3 separate regions of the Homo sapiens genome follow, and all the other regions are linked to region 3. Evidence: fine-mapped expression QTL. A gene starts in region 3. Each other region holds a variant in brackets. All regions are shown on one strand. Distances are between the middles of the regions. Region 1 overlaps ANO7 (anoctamin 7). Region 2 overlaps SNED1 (sushi, nidogen and EGF like domains 1). Region 3 holds the start of MTERF4 (mitochondrial transcription termination factor 4).

Region 1 (8,175 bases), 110 kb after region 3:
TTCCATCCTAGGGAGGTCGCCCCTGCCTGGGTCCAGGCCAAGCCTCTCATCTCCTCCAAGCAGGCCATCTGCCCCAGGCAACCCCAGAGCTGTTCCTCCTGGGTCCTGGCTGCCCTCACCCCACTCAGCTCTTGGCACCCTCCCTTCCCCATCCTGGGTCAGACCCAACCCCTTCATTCTGTGCCCCAGAACTTCCAAAGCCCTTTCTCATCCGCACACACAGCCCCACCGTGGACCCAGACAATAGAGCCAGCCAGGGCAGCGGGCGGGGCCGGCAGGCATGGAAGGGCAGCCGGGGCACAGCATCGGGGCAGAGGGACAGCTCCTGTGTGCCAGGACTCACCCGGCCATCTCAGGACCTGGAGCAGCAACCCTGGGACAGCACGGCCAGGCTGGGGGCTTCTGGGGGCAAGCAGGGCCAGGGCTGGATCTGGGCTCCAGGCAGACTTGCGTTTCACAGCAGTCACTTTGGCCAGCAGAGAGTCAGGCAGGAGACAGGACACCAGGCCTGGGACTGGACTAGCCCTATGGGAGGCAGTGGGGGTACATGCTGAGGGCCTGGGGTAACTGAGGGATTGCGGCTGTGGTCAGATGAGGCAGGGGCCAGGGTGGGGGTTGGGTGGTGGGGAGGGAGGTACCCGGAATGACTCGTGGTTTCCCTGGGGCTGGAACACGGGTGGGCCCACAGCTCTGTGGTGGGCAGGATGTAGAGGGACTTCTCTGTCCGTCCCGGGCAGGTTGGTTGGAGTGAGCTGGCTGAGGAGAAGGCATCCAGAGGTGGAGAGCCTGGTGGGCTGGAGCCCCAGCAGCACTGGTGTTGGGGTCAATGTGGTAGGGGTGTCCAGAGTCTAGGGCAGAGGCCCAGGAGGGTGGGCCGTGCCAGAGCTGCCAGGGAGAGCTGTGTACCTCTTGGCCTCCTCACATAGGGCCCCAGCCCCCAAGCTGGGCTGAGGGTGGTCCCTAGGGGACAAGCATGGCTGTGCAGACCCCTACCTGGGGCCCCCAAGCCTGGGTTCCTGATGGTGGACCCCTGCCATCCTCTCTACAGGGTTTTACACAGGCTGGCTCCTGCCAGCGGCAGTGGTGGGCACACTGGTGTTCCTGGTGGGCTGCTTCCTGGTGTTCTCAGACATACCCACGTGAGTGTTCCCTCTCCGCAGCTCTGGGGCCTGGTGCTGGGCCTCCAGATGGGTGTGGGGCGGGGGGACCCCTAGGTGCTAGGTCCTGTGCAGACAGCTGGTGCTTGAGGTGATTGAGGTGTGAGGTGAGCACATGCCTGTCTTCAGGAGTGTCACAGAGGGCCTTGTGGACATGGCTGAAAGGCTGGCAGGTGGACAGGAGTGCTCCCAGGCTGACAGGTGGACAGGAGTGCTCCCAGGCTGACAGGTGGACAGGAGTGCTCCCAAACTGACAGGTGGTCAGGAGCACTCCCAGACTGACAGGCAGACGGGGCGCTCCCAGGCTGACAGGTAGTCAGGAGTGCTCCCAGGCTGGCACCGGTGGATAGGAGTGCTCCCAGGCTGACAGGTGGTCAGGAGTGCTCCCAGGCTGATAGGTGGACAGGAGTGCTCCCAGGCTGACAGGTAGCTAGGACTGCTCTCAGGCTGAAACAGGTAGACAGGTGTGCTCTCAGGCTGACACAGGTGGATAAGAGTGCTCCAAGGCTGACACAGGTGGACAGGAGTGCTCCCAGTCTGACAGGTGGACAGGAGTGCTCCAAGGCTGACACAGGTGGACAGGAGTGCTCCCAGTCTGACAGGTGGACAGGAGTGCTCCCAGGCTGACACAGGTGGACAGGAGTGCTCCCAGCCTGACACAGGTGGGCAGGAGTGCTCCCAGCCTGACACAGGTGGACAGGAGTGCTCCAAGGCTGACACAGGTGGACAGGAGTGTTCCCAGTCTGACAAGTGGACAGGAGTGCTCCCAGGCTGACAGGTGGACAGGAGTGCTCCCAGTCTGACAGGTGGACAGGAGTGCTCCCAGTCTGACAGGTGGACAGGAGTGCTCCCAGGCTGACAGGTGGGCAGGAGTGCTCCCAGCCTGACACAGGTGGGCAGGAGTGCTACCAGGCTGACACAGGTGGACAGGAGTGCTCCCAGGCTGACATAGGTGGACAGGAGTGCTCCCAGCCTGACAGGTGGACAGGAGTGCTCCCAGGCTGACACAGGTGGACAGGAGTGCTCCCAGCCTGACACAGGTGGGCAGGAGTGCTCCCAGCCTGACACAGGTGGACAGGAGTGCTCCAAGGCTGACAGGTGGACAGGAGTGCTCCCAGGTTGACACAAGTGGACAGGAGTGCTCCCAGTCTGACAGGTGGACAGGAGTGCTCCCAGGCTGACAGCTGGGCAGGAATGCTCCCAGCCTGACACAGGTGGGCAGGAGTGCTCCCAGGCTGACACAGGTGGACAGGAGTGCTCCCAGGCTGACAGGTGGACAGGAGTGCTCCCAGGCTGACACAGGTAGACAGGAGTGCTCCCAGTCTGACAGGTGGACAGGAGTGCTCCCAGGCTGACAGGTGGACAGGAGTGCTCCCAGGCTGACACAGGTGGTCAGGAGTGCTCCCAGTCTGACAGGTGGACAGGAGTGCTCCCAGGCTGACACAGGTGGACAGGAGTGCTCCCAGCCTGACACAGGTGGGCAGGAGTGCTCCCAGCCTGACACAGGTGGACAGGAGTGCTCCAAGGCTGACACAGGTGGACAGGAGTGTTCCCAGTCTGACAAGTGGACAGGAGTGCTCCCAGGCTGACAGGTGGACAGGAGTGCTCCCAGTCTGACAGGTGGACAGGAGTGCTCCCAGGCTGACAGGTGGACAGGAGTGCTCCCAGGCTGACAGGTGGGCAGGAGTGCTCCCAGCCAGACACAGGTGGGCAGGAGTGCTACCAGGCTGACACAGGTGGACAGGAGTGCTCCCAGGCTGACATAGGTGGACAGGAGTGCTCCCAGCCTGACAGGTGGACAGGAGTGCTCCCAGGCTGACACAGGTGGACAGGAGTGCTCCCAGCCTGACACAGGTGGGCAGGAGTGCTCCCAGCCTGACACAGGTGGACAGGAGTGCTCCAAGGCTGACAGGTGGACAGGAGTGCTCCCAGGTTGACACAAGTGGACAGGAGTGCTCCCAGTCTGACAGGTGGACAGGAGTGCTCCCAGGCTGACAGGTGGGCAGGAATGCTCCCAGCCTGACACAGGTGGGCAGGAGTGCTCCCAGGCTGACACAGGTGGACAGGAGTGCTCCCAGGCTGACAGGTGGACAGGAGTGCTCCCAGGCTGACACAGGTAGACAGGAGTGCTCCCAGTCTGACAGGTGGACAGGAGTGCTCCCAGGCTGACAGGTGGACAGGAGTGCTCCCAGGCTGACACAGGTGGTCAGGAGTGCTCCCAGTCTGACAGGTGGACAGGAGTGCTCCCAGGCTGACACAGGTGGACAGGAGTGTTCCAAGGCTGACAGATGGGCAGGAGTGCTCCCATGCTAATTTTATTGGCACTCTTGTTTATTATAATAATGTAAGCTTTCTTATAATATTAATAAATGGGCTTGTGTTTTAGTTTATCATGGAACTGAAATTCAGAAACTTAACTCAGACATTGTCATGGCATATATTTTAAAACAACTATTTTTTTTAAGAAATGCTGGGCCTGGCAAAGGCAGTGGTGGACAGAGAGGACAAGGGAGAGAGAGGACAAGGGAGGCGCCTGGCTGGGAGGAGCAAGCAGCCCCCCTCCCCCATTAGCTCCCACCCCTCCGCTCCATGCCTTGCAGGCAGGAACTGTGTGGCAGCAAGGACAGCTTCGAGATGTGCCCACTTTGCCTCGACTGCCCTTTCTGGCTGCTCTCCAGCGCCTGTGCCCTGGCCCAGGTACGAGAAGAGGTGGGTGGGGTAAGGGATTTGAGAGTCGGGGATGAGGAGGGCAGCTCCCCTTGTCCTGGTCCTGACTCTGCCTGCACCAGCCCCTGTCCTGCTTGTCACCAGCTAAAGGCAGAACGCTCCATGAGCTCCTTAACCTTTGTTCTCTTGCCTGGAACTGGGGTTACACCCGGCACACACCTCCCAGCACTTGGCAGAGTGGCCCATGTTAGTGCTTCCCACTTGAGGACACCCCACACCAGGACTCTAGCTCTGGCACTCTGGGGGCACCTGGCCCTTGGCTCCAAGGCGGACAAACCCTGGAGACCCCAGGGCACAGGCAAAACCAAAGGTTTTGAGCAGAATTCCCAACTTACAAGACCTGGGCGGGAGGCTCCTGCAGTCTCTGAGCCCCACTGTCCCCCCTCCCGCCTGGCATGCTTCCTGGGTCTGTCCACCTTCCCAGGGGCCTCAGGGCCTCGCTTGTACCCCACATGCACTGGACCCAGAGCCCTTGGCACTACTGGTGGGCCAGACGCCGTTTGACCTCACTTCTGGGAATCCACTTGGATGTTTCCTAGGACCACAAATGGGGACTTAAAACAGCAGAAGCTTATTCTCACAGGCCCGGGGCCAGAGTCCAGAATCAAGCTGTTGGCAGGCTTGGCCACTTCTGGGGACTCAGCCCCAGGCCTCTCTCCTGGTTTCTGGTGCTGCTGGCAGTCCTTGGTCCTCCCTGGCTTGTGGCCGCCTCATTCCAATCTCTGCTTCCATCTCCACCTGGCCTTCCCTTCTGTGTCTGC[G/C]TGCTGGTTCCTCTTCTCCCCTCTTGTAAGGGTTTGTCCAGAGTACTCTCATCTGGAGATCCTTACCTTACATCTACAAAGGCCCTTATTCAAATAAGATTACATTCTGAGGTTCCCAACGAACATATCTTTTGGGGGCCAGAATTCAACTCACTACAGGTCATCCTCTGGTTCCAAAACTTCATGTCCATCCCACGTGCAAAATACACTCACCTCATCCCAGCATCCTCCAAAGTCTCAACCTCTTACAGCATTAACTCTAGGTCCAAAACCTCATGAAAATATCAGCTCAGAAAGTCCCAAATCGCATCCTCAAAGTCAGGTGTGGGTGAGACCTGGGTGTGAGCCGTCCTGAGGCAAAATTCCTCTCCCTCTGTGGGTCTGTGCTTCCAAAACACAGTCAGGGGGCTGGGCACGGTGGCTCACGCCTGTAATCCCAGCACTTTGGGAGGCCAAGGCGGGTGGATCACAAGGTCAGAAGATCGAGACCATCCTGGCTAACACGGTGAAACCTCGTCTCTACTAAAAATACAAAAATTTAGCCGGGCGTGGTGGCGGGCGCCTGTAGTCCCAGCTACTTGGGAGGCTGAGGCAGGAGAATGGCGTGAACCCGGGAGGCGAAGCGTGCAGTGAGCCGAGATCGCGCCACTGCACTCCAGCCTGGGTGACAGAGCCAGACTCCGTCTCAAGCAAACAAACAAAAAATACACAGTCGGGGGATGTGTGTGGGATGCACACTCCCATTCCAGGAGGAAGGAACACTGGAAGGAACAAGGGGCCTCCAGTCCCAAGCAAGTCTGGACGCCCCCGCTCCCTGCCACAGGCCGGCCGGCTGTTCGACCACGGCGGCACCGTGTTCTTCAGCTTGTTCATGGCACTGTGGGCCGTGCTGCTGCTGGAGTACTGGAAGCGGAAGAGCGCCACGCTGGCCTACCGCTGGGACTGCTCTGACTACGAGGACACTGAGGTGAGCCACCCCCGCTGGACCACGGTCACACCCGGCGAGGGCCGCCACTGAGCACCGGCTCCCTTCCAGGAGAGGCCTCGGCCCCAGTTTGCCGCCTCAGCCCCCATGACAGCCCCGAACCCCATCACGGGTGAGGACGAGCCCTACTTCCCTGAGAGGAGCCGCGCGCGCCGCATGCTGGCCGGCTCTGTGGTGATCGTGGTGATGGTATGCGGTCCCCCTGCCCTCCGCTCACGCCTCCATCCTCCTGCACCATGTGGGGTGGTTTTGTCCCCCATCTCACCTTGGTGCCGTGGCCAGATGCCTCCTCTGGGCACAGAACCCTCACTCCCCGCAGAGAGGCCCCCATGTGCCCGGGCTCGGCCGTGGGGTCCCGGCTGAGAGCAGGTGTGAGTCATACGGAGGGCCTGGGAGGGTCTCCCCGTGGGTGCGGGCATGGGGCATTTTTCAAGCAAGGGGGTTGGTTTCAAGGAAAAGAGAGGCGGGCACCCCAGCAGGGCCATTCACTGCACCCTGTCTTGCCTTCCAGCCAAAGGGGCTTCCTAATAGGACCTCTCACTCCCCTGCCAAGATGTCAGGAATCCCCAATTCCTGGGATGGGATGGCTCTCCAACACTCACAGTGGCTGCCTTGACACCCAGATGTGGCCCAGCCTCTAACTCTAACCCCACCCCACCTCTGCCTGAGCAACTCATCAGGAAGGACATAGCCTGGGAGCACAGCCGGGGCTGGAGGCAGGGGCCTTCCTAGAGGTGGCAGTGCTGGGGCCAGCAGTGGACTAGAAGAGCTGTCGGGGGCCATGGCCTGAGGGTGCTGGGGTGCCCAAGACACCGTGAAGGGTCTCACGGGCCTCCCTGCCCCCGCAGGTGGCCGTGGTGGTCATGTGCCTCGTGTCTATCATCCTGTACCGTGCCATCATGGCCATCGTGGTGTCCAGGTCGGGCAACACCCTTCTCGCAGCCTGGGTGAGCCTCTGCTGCCTGCCTCGGGGGGCCCTGAGCGGCCCCTCATCCGGCTCTGACGGCCTGTCTCCCGTTAGGCCTCTCGCATCGCCAGCCTCACGGGGTCTGTAGTGAACCTCGTCTTCATCCTCATCCTCTCCAAGATCTATGTATCCCTGGCCCACGTCCTGACACGATGGGGTGAGTGGGCTGAGGCCGGCCAGGCACTGACCAGGGGCCCACCCTGCCGGCCGCCAGCCAGAACGTGACTTTCTCACTCACTGACACACATGGCCCTCATTTCTATTTCTTTCTTCTTTTTTCTTTTGAGACAGGATCTCACTCTGTTGCCCAAGCTGGAGTGCACTGGCACGATCATGGCTCACTGTAGCCTTGACCTCCCAGGCTCAAGGGATCCTCCTGCCTCAGCCTCCTCAGTACCTGGACCACTGTGCCCAGCTGAAATTTTTTTTTTTTTTGATAGAGACAGGGGTCTCACTGTGTGGCTCAGGCTGGTCTCGAGCTCCTGGCCTCAAGGGATCCTCCTGCCTAGGCCTCTCAAAGTGCTGGGATTACAGGCATGAGCCACAGCACCTGGTTTTCTTTCTCTTATTTTTTGTTTTTGGCACCCCAGGTGGGACACAAACAATCCCTGGGTTAGGAAGCCAGTGCTCCCTATTTCTAAATGTGGTACAGATTGGAGTTGTCTGAGCCTCCCCAGAGGCCCCCTTAAAAGAGCAGTGAGCAGGGCCTTCCTGGAGATAAAAGACCCTGGGGGCACTCCAGCACCCAAAGAGTTCTCACCCCTCCACAGGGCCCCCCTCCAGGCTGCAAGGTCCCCCAGGTGGGAGATGTCCCTCTAGGATAGGGCCGCTGAGCCTCTGTTGGGTGGTGTGGGGTATCGGCTGCTGGGCTGGGCAGCCACCTCTCAGTTCTTCCCTCCCCCTTCCTCTCCCATCGGTCTTTTTCTCTGTCTCATTTCCTGAGGACAAACACTTACGACCAACCTATTCATTCCATAAGCTGCTGCCTCTCACTAGCCCTGCTCTAGCCCTGGGGGTGAATAGTCTTGAACAAAAGCTGGCAGCCCCACCCTGGAGCCCAGGTTCTAGGAGAGGGGACAGAACTGGCTGCCTGCACAGCTACAGAGAATGGGAGAGGGCTTAAGTGCTGAGGAGGAAGTGCCTCCTGGTGGGTGGCCAGGGGAAGGTGGGTGTCAGGGAAAGACCTTTGCAGGTGGCAGGTGTCTCAGGGAGAGGTTCCTGGTTCTGGATGGCCAAGGGTAGGGCTCTGAGGGGAGCCACCCATTTGTTTCTGCAACTGTGGGGTTGCTGTGGGGTGTTGAGCCTCCCTCTTTCCCTCCTGTAACCTTCAGCCTTTGATGCTCCTGCCTCCGGCACCTGCACCGGAGCCCAGTCCGCTGCGCAGCCTTGGCACCGAGCCTCTATTCTGTTTCTCTGACCCATCCCCTGACCACTCACCCGTGTGCACCACATTCATTATTAGTGTTGGGATATAGGGTATTATCAATTTTCCCAACTCCTGTTAATCAACATGTTTTTGGGTGACTTCGGAAATGTCACACTTTGTCTCCTTCTTTTAAATATCTGGATGATATGGCC
Region 2 (8,175 bases), 28 kb before region 3:
AAACCTGACCGCCGCCCGAGTCACTGCCACCTCTGCCCACGTGGTCTGGGATGCCCCGACTCCAGGCAGCTTGCTGGAGGCTTATGTCATCAATGTGACCACCAGCCAGAGCACCAAGAGCCGCTATGTCCCCAACGGGAAGCTGGCGTCCTACACGGTGCGCGACCTGCTGCCGGGACGGCGGTACCAGCTCTCTGTGATAGCAGTGCAGAGCACGGAGCTCGGGCCGCAGCACAGCGAGCCCGCCCACCTCTACATCATCACCTGTGAGTGCCGTGGGCCCTGCGCGTGGGCGGGGCCAGTGTTTGCCAGCCCTCCACCCTGTTCAGGACTGACCTGGCCCTGCAGGGGCCTGGGATGCCAGGCAGACAGCCTAGAAACAGGACCGTGTTAGCAGGGGAGGAGTCTGTGTATGAAAGTGGAGGCTTTTCAAACCCACAAGGAAAGGAAGGACTCATGGGCAGGTGGCACCAACAACTGGAATAATAAGCACATTGAGCCTCAGTTTGTGCCGGACCCTCCCGTAGATCCCAGACAGGCCGAGCATCACCTGAAAACGGGTGCCGAGGGTGGCAGCGAGGAGGAAGCCCCCGGAAGTGGCCTGCATTGCAGCCCAGGCCTGACCCACGAAGAGCCACTGGACACAGACAGACAAAGGGCCAGGAGGCCACAGGCAGGGGCCTGCAAGGCAGGCAGGAATGCTGGGGAGCAGAGGCACAGGGCAGAAGCCGCTCGGAGTGGGGACAGATGCTCCGAAGGGCTCAGGTCTGCTCCCAAGTGCAGGGGTGGCCCTTCCAGGCTCCACCAGGGTCCCGAACGCCCCACTTAGGTCTTCCAAGTTCACAGAAGGAGCAGTGGGAAAATGCAGGAGCAGAACAGGGAGAGAAGAAAGAGACGGAGACAAGCAGGGAGGAGAGGCCACGGCGGGACAGAGCAGAGCAGTGCGCGGCTCCCCAGGGAAGAGAGGGCTCTGACCCCAGGCTCCTCCCCAACCCGTGAGGCTGTGCTGGGGACACGAAGTGCATAAGCTTGCCGAGTTCTCAGACCCAACCCTGCCACCCCCACCAGCTTGGGGCCAAGCCCACCAGCCAGGCAGAAGGGGCAGGCTGGGACCTCTGTGAGCCGGCGTCAGAGTGAGAGGGAGAGGGAAGGGGAAGGAGGGCCCAGCCTGGGAGGCTGAAGGACGCTGTTAGGGTGACAGATGCACCCTCACTCTCAGGGCACATGCTGGGGTGGGGACTCCCAGCTGAAGCGTCCCATCAGGAGGCCACTGGGGAGAAGCACTGTGTCTCCAGGGCAGCCTGGGACCTGAGTCCGAGCCCGAGTGCCCAGCCCCTTGAGAACTTGAGTGACGGGCAGGGGCCTAGACTCAGCCCTGCCTCATGACTCCCAGGCCAGTGCACGCCTGTGTCATGGCTGCGCATGGCTCCTCCTCAGAAGGGATGCGGCGGGTGGGCTGGAAGGGAACCCAGGGCATCTGGGGAAGCCACAAGCACCTTGGATGACCACGGCCCACGCACATGCCCCCCTTCCCTTCTCCAAGCACGGCTGAGTGTGAGGGGCACCACCCATGCCACAGGGGCAGGGACAGGAGCAGAGGGCAGCCCCAGACCAGCCCCTTCCTCCTGCCTGCTCTGCAGCCCCCAGGGATGGCGCTGACAGACGCTGGCACCAGGGAGGACACCACCCTCGGGTGCTCAAGAACAGACCGCCCCCGGCGCGCCTGCCGGAGCTGCGCCTGCTCAATGACCACAGCGCCCCCGAGACCCCCACCCAGCCCCCCAGGTACATGCCCCACCCATCGGCCCCATCGCCCGAGGCGGCGCTCGGACTGTGGTGACCCTCCCACCCTCTCTGCAGGTTCTCGGAGCTTGTGGACGGCAGAGGAAGAGTGAGCGCCAGGTTCGGTGGCTCACCCAGCAAAGCAGCCACCGTGAGATCACGTGAGTGCCAGGGCCTCCCCACCCACCTTGGTGGCCCACCCTCGTCCTCACTGCCACTCTCACCAGGTCCTGTCCCCTACATGATGAGCCCACCCCCACCGCCAGCGCAGTCTCCAGCCAGTGACCCCCACCCCGACTGTGCACAAGGCGCGGGGCTCGTGGGCCGCCGGCAGCATGCACCTCCATGGCAGGAGGGGCAGCTCGTGAGGGCCTCACGTCAGTGTGTGGGCTGGAGGCGCAGGCTGCTGGTAGGGCACGCAAGAGAAGATAAACATTTTAGAAGCAGGTCTGAGACATTACAGCAGCTTTATTTGCCAAAGTAGGGCTCTGAGCTTTGTTTTAGTAAACCATGGGCAGGAGGCCATGAGGGTCTAACCCGCCACTCCGAGTGTGGTCCGGCAAATCCTCCGCCACTGTCCTGGCAAGATCTTCCCGGTGGCAGCAAGGCTGATGGGCCCAGGTGCCTTGGGCCCTTCCCACCGGGTTTACTGGGTGAGTGCCGCTCTGGGAATCTGCCTGTGATTCTGACACAGAAGCCCTGAGACATGTTGGCAGGAGTGAGGCAGGCGCGACCCTGCCCCAGAGGGGACCTCTCTGGCCCTTGCCTCTCACCTGGAAGGCCAGGTGGTCATCCTCATGGAACTCCCCAACAGAGCCTAGTCACCAGTTTAATGAACACGCTCTGAGCAAAAACTCCTCAGGCAGAGGAGGGAGGGAAATGCAGCAAGGAGAGTGGCAAGCAGGGACCAGAGCCCTGGGGTCCCTGCCGCACGGTGAGCAGGGGAGAGAGCCCCCAGCAAGGTGTCTGAGGAGAGGGCAGGCAGCTGCCCGGGATGCCCAGTGGTGGGCAGGTGAGATCTGGAGTACAGAGGGGGGCCCGTTGTACTTGCAGCTATGGAAGCGGATATGAAGTGCCCGAGGGTGCGGTTGAGATCCCTGCATAAGAAGTGATGCAGTTGGGGGCGAGGGCATGAGGAAGGTCAGTACAGACTGAGGGCAGCTCAGAAAGAGCAGGGGGTGCCACAGCCTCCAAGAAGCAGGGGTGGAAGGAGAGGAATGCAGAATTTGACCCTAAGAAGAAAGCAACCGCATCAGCCGTGAGGATGGGGCCTCTCAGCATGATCAGTGGTGGCTGTCCCTGAAGCAGCTCTGAGGGGGCCCTGCAAGGGGAAGGCCGAGCCCCTCCAGAGGGTCAGCAGGAGGGTGAGGCCAGCCCTTCAGGGGAGGCAGCTCTGGGGCCGACAGGTGCTGGGGCCACGCAGGGAGCCTGGTCCCCACCAGGGACATCCGTGCTCCCTGAGATATAGAAGCACTCAAAAGGGTGGCCCCAGGACCATCCCGGGTGCAAAGCAGCTGCGCCGTGTGGTCACCGCCTGGCTTCTCCTAGAACCCACAGCCTCGGCGCAGCTCGAGAACATGGAGGAAGCCCCCAAGC[G/A]GGTCAGCCTGGCCCTCCAGCTCCCTGAACACGGCAGCAAGGACATCGGAAGTGAGTCAGCAGCGCTGGTGGGGACTTTGGGACTGACTGACTGCTCTCAGGGGCCTTAGAGGCTGCAGGCAGGAGGGACCACCCACGGTGAGGAATCAGGAGGCACAGAGCCTACCTGAGGGGAGGCTGAGCACCAGGCACCCCGGTGTGGGAAGATGGGGTGAAGCTACACCACCCAAGCAGTGGGACCCCACAGACGGGAACAGGCCAGGGGGCAGGACCCACCCAAACCACCCAGAGTCTGAGCTAGAGAGACTGGCTTTGATGCTGCCTCCCCTCCCCTCTCCTCCTTCGCCTCCACATGCAGCAGAGCCCACCCCAGCCCCTGCCTCTGGGCCCCTCACCCCTCACTTCTCCAAAGAGGAGCAGGCGGAGTCAGGATGGGAGAAGCAGAGGGAGCAGCCACTGGGCGAGCCCCAGCTTGAGGACTAGCTGGGCCCTGTGGACACTCAGGTTATGCAGGACCTGAACTGTCTCCTAGTCCGGGGCTCTGCCTCGTGAGGATCGAGGCCAGCACGTCCCTGCAGGGCACCAAGCATCTGCTGAGCACCTGCAGTAAGAGTTCCCAGACGCTCACGAGGCAGTTCCCCTTCGGGCAGCACCAATACATGTGTGTTCCTCACCCTGAGTCAGACTCTACCTTTCTCCTGGTTCTAATCCTTTGGGGCTGTGTCCTCTATGGACAGCTCTCCTAGCACCCGGTGACCTGTTCTCCCCTGAGTCATACCATAGACTCAGATTGGGATCACCCCTCAACCCAACCCCAAAGAAGTCCTAGTACTTGGTAAAGGTGTGAGCTGCTGAGCGTGGTCTCACCCGCAAGGCCTTGCCCCCAGCTTCTCAAGGACATGTGTACACATCAAGGGCACCTGCGGTGGGGTGTGTTTGCAAGTGGCGGTTTCGCTGAACCCTAAGTTCACCATCCCCCCCCCGCCCTCACCATACAAGGTCTGGACTTGCTGCTAGCCCCTGTGAGCACCAGGAGGACTGGTTTGTGCATCCGACGCAGAGAGTGAAGGATTCTCTTAATTCAGGTGTGGCCCATTCAGAGTGAAGACTCTCGTGTTGATCTTTAAGTGAACTAAAACAAACATTTCATCAGATGATTTGCATTATGTCAGCCCCTTTAAATACCAGGTGTTCATTTCCTAGAACTCAGAGATTGGAGGGGCGTGTGTTACCCTCCTGGGTCTCTTCAGCAGGAGAGATTCAAGATGACCCCCGGGCTGGCCCTGAGGTCACCACGGTCATGTGGTGTTTGCCAGCACGAGATGCTCATGCCCTGGTGGGTGCAAAATGATTTTAAGTGATAACATGAAAAGTAGACTCTTTAATGGCCCCTCGATGCGCAAAGCCAGTCATGATCTTTGGTTCATGTTGCACTCTCACGCTAGCTACCTTTTATTTAGTTATTAGCCTTTGAATAATGACTAAATCAAGAACCCAACCTATAAACTTGGATGTGAACGATACCTTCTATCTTGCCATCATACTCCCTGTTCTCTCCCCTCAGTTAACCATGATCCTGAACTTTGTGCCTAGAATTCCTTTGTTTTTTCAGAGTGGAAGGTGCGGGGAGTGATTCTATGGTACATATATGTATGGCAGAACAATAAGTGAGTTTTCTTTGCAAGATAATTATCTTGCCATGTGTGATCGTTAGACCTGTGTTTTCACTCCGCATTCTCGGACTGAGGTTGGCCCATGCGGTCTGGGCGGCTGCGGCTTATTCACACCTACTATTGAGCACAGAGTCCACTGAGTGAACTGACCGGCTCTTCTCCCCTCTCTGTGCAGAGAACATGTAGGTTGTGTTTGGTATGAGCAGTGCTGCAGTGGATGTTCCTGTACAGGTTTTCCAGTACGTGTGCGGGAGTGGAAAAGCTGGATCTAGGATGAGGATGTGTGAATGCCCAAATTACATGAGAACTAAGTCATTTTCTAAGAGGCGATAGCAGTCTGCGCTCCCTCCAGCAGTGATGAAGACATGCAGTGAATCCAGTCTCTCTAGAACTAGGTTTTGCCGGGTTTGCAGATCCTACAGGCAGAACGGGTGGGATGCACACCCCTGGGATCTGGGTTTGCATCTCCTGGGCACTGATGTGACTGCGCCTCTCCTCATGGGCATCCACCAAAGGTGTTTGCTTCTGTGAAATGCCTGATCACGCCTTTTGACTTTATGTTGGGTTATTTGTACTCTTTTTATTCATTTGTCAAAATTCTTATATGTTTTGATACTGATCCTTTGTCAGGTCTGTGTTCTGCAGGTATCTTCCTCCAGCCTCTGGCTTGTCCTTCCCTGTTCTTGGTGGTACTTCCTAATAGAGAAAAGTTCATAATCAAATTTATCAAGCATTAGTGGTTAACAAGTTGGGAGCCTTCTTTAAAAAATATCCTTCCCCACACCAAAGTTAGAAAGTTATTCATGTATATTTTTTTCACAAAGATGTAAAGTTTTGCTTTTGACCTGTAGGTCATTAATCTGTTAGACTGTGTGTGTGTGAGAAGTTGGGCTACAATTTCATTTTTTATGCATATGGGTAAACTGGATTTTTCATCTCTTCATGCTAAAAAGTCCCTTTTTCCCCCACTGTCAGTATCAAAATTCCACATATAAAAGTAGAATTCTGGCGGCGTCAATTTGATACATCTGTGCCAATACTGCCCTGTGTTCACTCTAACTTTGTAAGTCCTGGAACTGATTGGCAAAGTTCCTTTCCTTTACTCTTCATCTTCAGAAGTATCATTGCTACCCTTGGCCTTTTTTCTTCCACATATACACCTTCAAATCTAGTCACACTCTATGGAAAAGGCCTTTGAGATAATGATGACTGGGTGTGCATTCAATCCATTGACCATTTTTGTGAAAATTGACATCTTTAGGATAGTAAGTCTATATCCATGGACATGGGATGTCTCTCCATATATGACATTATGACTTATTTAATATCTTTCAGTAAAGTTTTATATGGAATTCAGACTTATTCCTAGGTATTTTATAGTTTGATACTATTATATAGTTTGATACTAGTATATACTTTAAAAGTTACTTTTCCTGATTATTTATTACTGGAGTATAGATATTTATTTGACCTTTGCATACTGACCTTATAGCCAACCATCTTGCCAAACTCTCCTATTCTTGTCATACATTCTTTGGGGTTTTCTATATATATATAAAATCATATCCTTTTAAAGATTAATTGTTTGCCTTTTAAAACTCAGACCTGCTCACACCTGTAATCCCAGCACTTTGGGAGGCCTAGGCAGGTGAATCACTTGAGGCCAGGAAGGAGTTCAAGACTAGCCTGGCCAACATGGTGAAACCTGTTGGTGTGGTAATGGGTTAAGGATAGGCATTTAGATCAGTGGAAAAGAACTGAGAGTCCAGGGCCGGGCGCGGGGGCTCACGCCTGTAATCCGTGGAAAAGAACTGAGAGTCCAGGGCCGGGCGCAGTGGCTCAGGCCTGTAATCCCAGCACTTTGGGAGGCCGAGGCGGGCGGATCACCAGGTCAGGAGATCGAGACCATGGTGAAACCCCGTCTCTACTAAAAATACAAAAAATTAGCTGGGCATGGTGGCGGGCGCCTGTGGTCCCAGCTACTCCGGAGGCTGAGGCAGGAGAATGGCGTGAACCCGGGAGGTGGAGCTTGCAGTGAGCTGAGATTGCGCCACTGCACTCCAGCCTGGGCGACAGAGCGAGACTCCGTCTCAAAAAAAAAAAAAAAGAATTGAGAGTCTGGAAATAAACCACACGTCAATGGCCAACTGACTTCTACAAGGGGGCTGAAACCATTCAATGTGGAAAGAATAGTCTCAGCAAATGGTGCTGGGACAGCTGGATATCCACATGCAAAAAGAATGAGGCCGGAGCCCTCGTACCATATACCTCATAACACAAATTACCACAAATTGACCAACAACCTAAATGTTAGGAGCTAAAACCAAAACTCTTAGAAGAAAACATAGGAGTAAATCTTCATGACCTTCGATCATGAGGGTCCTTAGGCTCAACAATAAAAGTATGAGCAACAACAAAAATCTATATATAAACTACTCTTCATCAAAACTTAAAACTTCTGTGCCTCAAAGGATGCCATCAAGGAAGTGACATGACAACCTGTGGAGTGGAGGAAACATGCAAATCATACCTGATCAGAGACCCGCGTCTAAAATAAAGAGCTCTGACAACTGAACAATAAAAAGACAAACAACCCAGTTCAGACATGGGCAAATCATACCTGATCAGAGACCCATATCTAAAATAAAGAGCTCTGACAACTAAACAATAAAAAGACAACCCAATTCAGACAGGGGCAAAGGACCTAAAAAGACATTTCTGCAAGGAAGATATGCAAATGGCCAGTAATCACACCGAAAAGATCCTTGACATCATTAGTCAGCAGGGAAATGCACATCAAAACCACTAGGATGGCGGGAATTAAAAAGTCAGATAATAATAAGCATTGGTGAGGACGTGGAGAGATCAGAACCCTCTACGCTGCTGGTGGGACTGTAAAGTGGTACAGCTGCTCTGGAAAACAGTCTGGCAGTTCCTTAAAGGATTAAACCAATAGTTACCGCATGACCCAGTAATTGCACTCCTAGGTATATACCCAAGAGAAATGAAAACCTATGTCCACATGAGGTCCTGTACACAAATATTTATAGCAGCACAGCACAAAAGCCAGAAAGTAGAAACCACCAAAGTGTCAATCAACTAACGAAAGGAAAAGTGGCCGGGC
Region 3 (8,150 bases):
ATGTGAGGAATTTCAGTTTAGGTTTATCTTCATTTCTTAAGGCTGTGCTGAGTTTGCTAATTAATCACCACCACACATAATATATTTAGACTTTTAGATTACACTGTAAGAATCTGTTAAGAAAAATATACAAGGCTACCTTTTTCTTATCTTCTAGAGAAGGAGGCCTGTAGAGATGCTGTGAAATGGTGGATCCTAAACCTTCTACCACTGCCTCAAAAAACATCTTACCAGGAAGAGTCAATAATGCAAAGAAATAATAGTGGAACTCCTCTGGTCAAAGTGGGTAAGGGTCCTTGGAGACCCCCAACTCCTCCAGAAGGCCCTTAAAGAGATTCAAGGAACTTTGAGCATCCTTGAGATGTGAATATTGTTGGGGGCAGGAGTGGGGGATAAATAGAAGGGAAGGCCACTCCACGAGTATCCCAGGAACCTGGCCAGATCTCTCATGTTCCAGAGTAAATCTAAACACTCGACTAGAATCTAAGTCTTTACAAGAGATGTTGGTTTGACATCACATCACAGAGACAGAGCACTAAGACCATTTCATGTTGATTTAAACATCAAATGCTATATGTACACATATTTATCAACATCACATTATCAGCATCAACCCACTGAACACATACCATATGCCCACCACTGCACTAGGTGCTGAAGATCCCACGGTGAACAAGGCAGACAAGAGTCTCTGCCCTGGCACTCAATTTTTTCTTCTAGTCTTAACTCCTCCTCCTTCCCTCTCAAAATGTATTCTGCACAGAAAGCCACTCCTATTCCTCACCTCCAAGCCAAATTATACAGTCCTCTCCAGGAACACTGACATACTCAGAAACCTCCCCTAATCCATCTCACCTTAGGCTGCTCTTTCCCCACCTCTGGCTCCTGTCACACTATATAAAATCTTTTTTTTTTTTTTTGAGACAGCCTTGCTGTCACCCAGGCTGGAGTGCAGTGGCGCCATCTCAGCTCACTGCAACCTCCGCCTCCTGGGTTCAAGCGATTTTCATGCCTCAGCCTCCCAAGTAGCTGGAATTACAGGTGCGTGCCACCAAGCCCAGCTAATTTTTCTATTTTTAGTTGAGTCAGGGTTTCACCATGTTGGCCAGGCTGATCTTGAACCCCTGACCTCAAGTGATCTGCCTGCCTCGGCCTCCCAAAGATCTGGGATTACAGGCATGAGCCACCGCACCCAGCCAAAATCTGCAACTTCTTGTACCTTCTCCAAGCCCAAGCTTTTGCAGGTAACTGGAGCGCTTCCTCATTTGCATAATAGGCAGTTTCAATAACTGGGGACTTTTCTTCAAGACCACACACACAGGCTCTGGATTCAGACCCAAGAGAATAAATTCTGAAATGATGTCCAGCAACTGTTGAAGACTGGCACCTCGCCGTACACTGAGCAATTCATTAATATGGGCATTGCTGAAACCCATGTCCAGGAGGGAACTCATGACCCTCTCTAGCTCCAAGGACCCTTGTACCACAGGAGTCCCCTGCTTCTCAAGGAGGCACTGAACAAGATTCCTCCTGCACTCTGGTTCCTGCACATAGTTATTGGATCTAACACAAGATAACTCCTCAATGACCCCTCCATTGGAGGCTGTAGTCAGTTTGCGCAACAAAGAAGCTGTCGTCCTTCTCTGTTCTCCAAGATGAGGAGTCTGCCTAGCCATACAGGCCCAGGTGAGGGGGATCAGGCGGTGCCAATCAAGGACCTGTAAGACACAGGACCAAAAGACAATTAATTCCTCACTATTCCAGTGTAATGGACACCATAAGACTTCTGAGCCAGAGTACTTACTGCCTTGGTTCCACACAAACATACAATTTTTATAAGCAATCTGCAAAATCCTATCTGAACTTAAGCCTACAGAGAAGGAAGCTCACAAAGAACAGGGTATTTCAAGGCCACAGAGATGGGAGTCAAGCAGGTACAATATTGTTAGCTTTTGCAGCTTTAAGGATGGGAGCAGGGACATGGAGGAAGAGGGAAAAACTATTTCTAGGCCACCTGGTCATGTGTGCCAGAAAAGTCTGGACCTCAGACTACTTTCCAGATTCATGTTCTTAAATTCATTCCACGAGAAGAATCTTGTGGGATACAGAGTTGGCCCTTGAACAACAAGGGTTTGAACTGCTTGGATCCACTTATATGTGGATTTTCTTCCGCCTCTGCCACCCTTGAGACACCAAGACCAAACTCTCCTTCACCTCCTCTTCAGCCTAAAGACCTTATGAGGATCTACTTCCTCTTAATGAATAGTAAATACATTTTCTCTTAGGATTTTCTTTTTGTTTTTTGAGACGGGGGTCTCACTCTGTTGCCCAGGCTGGAGTGCAGTGGTGCAATCATGGCTCACTGCAGCCTTGACTTCCCCAGGCTGAGGTAATCCTCCCACCTCAGCCTTCTGAGTAGCTGGGACTACAGGTGCACACTACACCCTGCTAATTTTTGTATTTTTTGTAGAGACGGGGTTTTGCCCTTATGATTTTCTGAATAACGTTTTCTTTTCTCTAGCTTACTTTAAGAATACAGAATGCAATATATATATATACAAGATATGTGTTAACTGTTTATGTTGTCGGTAAGGCTTCCAGTCATGAGTAGGCTATTAGTAGTTGAGTTTTGGAGGAGTCAAACGTTATACACTGATTTTCAACTGGTGTGGGGGCGGTCTGGTGCCCCTAACCCCTGTGTTGTTCAAGGGTCACAGTAATTAGTCAACTTGCATACACAATTCCAGTTGACCTCAAAAGTCTTCAGTGGTTCAGGCTGGTGCTTAACAAACTATGCACAAATCATCCAGGCACTCTAAGCCAGCAGTCTTCAACGTTTTTGGCACCAGGGACTGGCTTCATGGAAGACAATTTTTCCACAGACTGGTGAGGGGTTTCAGGATGATTCAAGCATATTACATTTGTTGTGCACTTTATTTCTGTTATTTTCACGTTGTAATATAAGATGAAATAATTATACAACTCACCATAATGTAGAATCACTGGGAGCCCTGAGCTTGTTTTCCTACAACCAGGAGGTGCCATCTGGGGTTGATGGGAAACAGTGACAGATCATCGGGCATCAGATTCTCATAAGGAGCGCAACCTGGACCCCTCAAAGGCGCAGTTCACAATAGGGTTCGCGCTCCAGTGAGAATCTAAGGCGGCTGGTCTGACAGGAGGCGGAGCTCAGGCGGTAATGCCAGCGAAGGGAGCGGCTGTAAATACAGTCTGGCTGGCTCACTTGCCGCTCACCTCCTGCTGTGCAGCCTGGTTCCTAATAGGCAAGGGACGGTACCGGGGGTTGGGGAACCCCTGCTCTAAAACCTTCACATCGGTCCCAACCCCTTCTCCAGCGTCATCGATTGTCGCCCTGGGGCCACCCTGCCAAGCCCAAGCTCTGGCTGCTCTCCAGCCTCCCCTGTCCAGATGCTCCCTCCGCCAGGAACACCTGGCAGTCGCTGGGGTCAGCGGGCGCGGCCCGTGGAACTGGGCTCAAGCCTAAAGACCTCTATGCTGATTCCGCTTCCTCTTAATGAAAAGTACATGTTATCTTCCTTGTGAAGTTCAAACTCTTGTTCAACAGTCAACTCAGGCCGGGCGCGGTGGCTCACGCCTGTAATCCCAGCACTTTGGGAGTTCGAGGCGGGTGGATCACCTGAGGCCAGAAGTTACAGACCAGACTGGCCAACACGGTGAAACCCCGTCTCTACTAAAAATACAAAAATTAGCCAGGCATGGTGGCGGGCGCCTGTAATCCCAGCTACTTGGGAGGCTGAAGCAGTAGAATTGCTTGAACCCGGGAGGCGGAGGTTGCAGTGAGCCGAGATCGCGCCATTGCACTCCAGCCTGGAGACAGAGCGAGACTTTGTCTCAAAAAAAAAAAATGTCAACTCTATATCCCACAATAATTGAGCAGAGCCACGGGTCCAGGATGCCAAAACCAGGTCAGCGTGCACGGACCTCCGGGAGGGCTCCACGACCTGGCCGTGAAACACTCGGCGGCCGCGGTTCCTCTGCGTCGCTGCCCGCCCGCCTGCGACCCGGAGAAGCCCGCGCGCCCAGCTCGAGCTTACCTGACGGCCGAACGCAGCCATAGCGCGGAGAAGATGGCAGCAGTTACGGCGCCGGAAGCAGCGGTCCTCCCCCGTCCTTCACTTCCGGCCCCCGGTCCGTCACCGACGCCGTTCCCAGCGCCAGCGCGGTGTGGTGGATCGTGATTCCGGCCCGGAGCTGTGCTGAGCGTTCACGGCCCCGCGGGGCTCAGGTGTCCCGGGGCCGCCCCTTAGAAAGCCGGAAGGCCGGAGTCGCGCCCGTCACCGTGCCGCCGCCTCTGCCGCGGCCTCAGCCTTCGGGGGCCTCGGTGTCCGGTTGTTCCCGTTGCACTGCCGTGTCCCGTTTCGCAGAGCTCTGGGCCGCGTGAACGAATGGGTCGTCCTGGCCCATACTTGTGTTTCAGATGACCTGAGAATTCCTCTCAAGAGTACAGGTAGAGGGGAACTGGTTCCTTGCTTCGGGAACTTCACCCGAGAGCGCAGAAATCCTTCCCGAGGCAGGAAAAATGGATTCCGTTCCATGTAGAGATATTTAAGATTTTATTGTGTAAAAATCTGTATTCAGCGTGAACACCGGGGCCACCTACGCACAAAAAGAAGTCTTTACCGCTTTTCTTTCTTTTTACTCTCAGCCAGTGGAAGATGAGAATTTGCCGTTTTTAAAAGACCCAAGTAAAATGACAGGAATTACGGCACATTTCCCTTTATAAGCAAGAGCCTTCCCAACTTCGAGGTCTGGTTCCCTCTTAGGATGAAATATAGTAAAGTTTTAGCCCAATGTGTATTCATTCTTAAATTTCCTCTCTCGACCTAAGAGCGTAGGCATCTTTCACAAGGTGATGCTTGTGAAGAATAAAAAGGTGTGCTTTCTCAGCTGCCTAAATCCTGCCACCAAAGCCTTAATTTATAAGCATTTCTTGTTTTATCTACTTCATTCTGGACTGACATAAAGGATTTGATTCTTGCATGGGCACACATTTACATATCTGCTTTGCGCCAGGCATGGAGTGGGGTGCCAAACAATTTATGTAAAACTGTCTTTTGACAAAAGGATTATGTCAAAGAAAAGGAAGGTTCTAATCCGTGTAGAAACTAAAGAATTGGTTGCTTTGGCAGAGTGCAGTGGCCCACGCCTGTAATCCCAGCACTGTGAGAGGCTGAGGTGGGGGGGATTGCCTGGGCTCAGGAGTTCAAGACCAACCTGAGCAACATAGGAAAATCCTGTCTCTACAAAAAATAAAAAATTAGCCGGGAGTAGTGGCGTGCACCTGTAGTCCCAGCTACTCAGGAGCCTGAAGTGGGAGGATCACTTGAGTCCAGGAGGTTGAGGCTGCAGTGAGCCATGATTGCACCACTGCACTCCAGCCTGCGTAACAGAGCAAGACCTTGTCTCAAAAAACAAAAGGAAAAAAAAAATTGGTTGCCTTTGTTGTTTTTTATAATGTAATTTTCTTCTCAAAATACTCAACTGTCAACATCTCACAATAAATTGTGTTAATGCTACACCAAAAGCCTAAGAAAATCCCATGAGCCACCCCAACTCCCTGGAAAGAATCAAGGAACCTGAACAGTTTGTCTAGCTCTAGAAATAAAATGACAGCTGGGACATGGGGATTACTATGAAAAATTGACATGAGCCCGGGTGTGGTGGCTCACGCCTGTAATCCCAGCACTTTGGGAGGCCGAGGTGGGCAGATCACCTGAGGTCAGGGGTTTGAGACCAGCCTGGAAAACATGGTGAAACCCCATCTCTACTAAAAATACAAAAATTAGCCAGGCATGGTGGTGGGCACCTGTAGTGTCAGCTACTCAGGAGGCTGAGGCAGGAGAATCACTTGAACCTGGGAGGCGGAGGTTGCAGTGAGCCAAGATCACGCCATTGTACTGCAGCCTGGGCAACAAAAGCGAAAGTACTTCTCAAAAAAAAAAAAAAAAAATTTGACATCACCTTCAGTCTTGTGTGAAAACTTTGCTCTCTCGAACCATACTTTAAAAATATGCAGTGGGTTGGGCACGGTGGCTCATGCTTGTAATCCCAGCACTTTGAGAGGCTGAGATGGGTGGATCACCTGAGGTCAGGAGTTCGAGACCAGCCTGGCCAATATAGTGAAACCCTGCCTCTACTAAAAATACAAAAATTAGCCAGGTAACGTGATAACGCACACTTGTAATCCCAGCTACTCGGGAGGCTGAGGCAGGAGAATTGCTTGAACCCAGGGAACGGAGGTTGCAGTGAGCCGAGATTGCACCATTGCACTCCAGCCTGGGTGACAGAGCAAGATTCCATCTTAAAAAAAAAAAAAAAAATGGAGTGGAAAAATTGTCAGCCTCAGCCTCAGAACTTTCCTCTCTGGGTTCTTTCTGCAAAGAACGTTTGCAAAATACCAGACCTTCCACTGCCATGAAGTCAGATGAGCTTTAATTATTTTTTCTTATAAAGAAGTAACAGTTCTTAGAAAGCTCAGACTATGCATTCTCAACCCATTAAACACCTGTCTGCAAACACCATTGTGGCCGAACGCAGTGGCTCATGCCTGTAATCCCAACATTTTGGGAGGCCGAGGCGGGCGGATCATGAGGTCAGGAGTTTGAGACCAGCCTGGCCAACATAGTGAAACCTCGTCTCTACTAAAAATACAAAAATTTAGCCAGGCGTGGTGGTGGGCACCTGTAATCCCAGCTACTTGGGAGGCTGAGGCAGAATTGCTTGAACCTGGGAGGCGGAGGTTGCAGTGAGCTGAGATCGCACCATTGCACTCCAGCCCAGGCGACAGTATAAGACTCTGTCTCTAAATAAATAAACAAACAAACAAACACCATTCTATAACATCCTCTGTGTTATAAGCACCATAAACACTACAAGGTAGGGGTTCTTAAAACATCAGAAAACTCTTTGAATTCTGAAGAGTGAACATCACTGACTTTAATACACACCTGTAAAACCCTTGTACCTTGAATGTCCCTGATAGAGGAGGGTCCTCCCCCACCAACTCCATCAGTCACTTGTGGTGGCAGCGAGGCTCAGGCAGCACTTTCTGAAGAAAGGGATGGCAATAGCCCATATCCTACTAGATGGGACTAAAATTAACTCTGATCATCCCAAAACAGTTGAGTGCCTCCTAAATAACCACTAGAAATAGCTCAGAACCACGCAGGAGGCAGCCTGGCTCCCAGGCAGCTTCCAGAGGGTTCTGGGCAGGAGTCTCAGAATGTGGAAAAACCGTCTGCAAGTGATGACATGTGGGAAAAGGGTAGGGGTTTAGGTTTTTGGTTTTTTTCCTACTGTCTCAGCAGGGGAAAAAAATGAAAGGTTCTGCTCTCACCTCTAGCTATTCCCTCCTCTCTAACACAGACATGAAATAAAACAATCCTAAGTACTTGACCTAGCCAAGTCTGTCTGAGGGGGATGGACTGGAGTCTAAGGGAGGGAAGCAGCCAGTTGAGTATCTGACAAACACCCTGGAACCTGAGCAGCTCGGAGGAATACAGGGCTGGAGCCCCTCACACAGACCAGAGGTGGGGGCTGGGCCAGGAAGCCCCTCATGTGGACAGAGGTGGGAGCTGGCTGGCCATGGGATATTTGGGGACTGCTGGCAGTGAGCCAGCCACGTGTTTGACAGCAGAGTCTTGCTACAGACAGAAGGGAGGTCCCTGAGGAAGCCACCCTCCCCCGTCTTACCAGATGGAGCAAGCTTCAGAGCCCTAGGCCCACCCCTGGCAGGGCCTGCTTGTAAAAGGAACCCCAGAATGGCCAAGGCTAGACTTCTCTCCAACTGTGGCAAGTGGGGTGCACACATGGAAAAATGAGGAAACCAGGTATTTCTCACACTTAGCACACGGGAACAGTTCACAACATCCAAGTCAGGATAACTGTTTACTAACAAAGGTGCTTTAATTTGAAAAGCATTTGAGGAAATAAATTAATGAAATAGTCTGGCCATTTGACTAACCAGTTCTACAAATTTCACATATCCGTCACTCAGATGAGCATATACCAAGTCAGAGGAAACAAAACATGCACATATACAAAAGTAGAAAGAGAAAACACTCATGCCTTCAGAAGTTCACAAATTAAAAGCCCTTTAATAATATAAA

The links.
Region 1: its variant is fine-mapped to the expression of MTERF4 in ovary (GTEx, PIP above 0.99).
Region 2: its variant is fine-mapped to the expression of MTERF4 in tibial nerve (GTEx, PIP above 0.99). The same link has a PIP of 0.9 or more in fibroblasts, left ventricle, prefrontal cortex, subcutaneous fat, sun-exposed skin and tibial artery.

Annotation. Positions count from the first base shown.
Region 1 is chr2:241,203,817-241,211,991 of GRCh38, forward strand. ANO7 (anoctamin 7) reads left to right here. Exons shown (of 25, transcript NM_001370694.2): 10 at 1,049-1,139; 11 at 3,758-3,854; 12 at 5,469-5,612; 13 at 5,682-5,819; 14 at 6,479-6,577; 15 at 6,652-6,754. Among named protein-coding and RNA genes, the nearest start is that of ANO7, 19 kb to the left of the region's middle. The variant G/C (reference allele first, on the strand shown) is at 4,646.
Region 2 is chr2:241,069,936-241,078,110 of GRCh38, forward strand. It overlaps SNED1 (sushi, nidogen and EGF like domains 1), which reads left to right. Exons shown (of 32, transcript NM_001080437.3): 24 at 1-266; 25 at 1,641-1,785; 26 at 1,861-1,943; 27 at 3,331-3,429. It also overlaps a transcript of MTERF4 not described here. Among named protein-coding and RNA genes, the nearest start is that of SNED1-AS1, 9.9 kb to the left of the region's middle. RefSeq lists an enhancer at 3,507-4,023. The variant G/A (reference allele first, on the strand shown) is at 3,379.
Region 3 is chr2:241,098,177-241,106,326 of GRCh38, forward strand. MTERF4 (mitochondrial transcription termination factor 4) reads right to left here and starts at 4,111. Exons shown (of 4, transcript NM_182501.4): 1 at 4,077-4,111; 2 at 1,220-1,718. The coding sequence starts at 4,097. It overlaps PASK (PAS domain containing serine/threonine kinase), which reads right to left. Exons shown (of 18, transcript NM_015148.4): 18 at 7,923-8,150. RefSeq lists enhancers at 3,358-3,897, 3,898-4,437.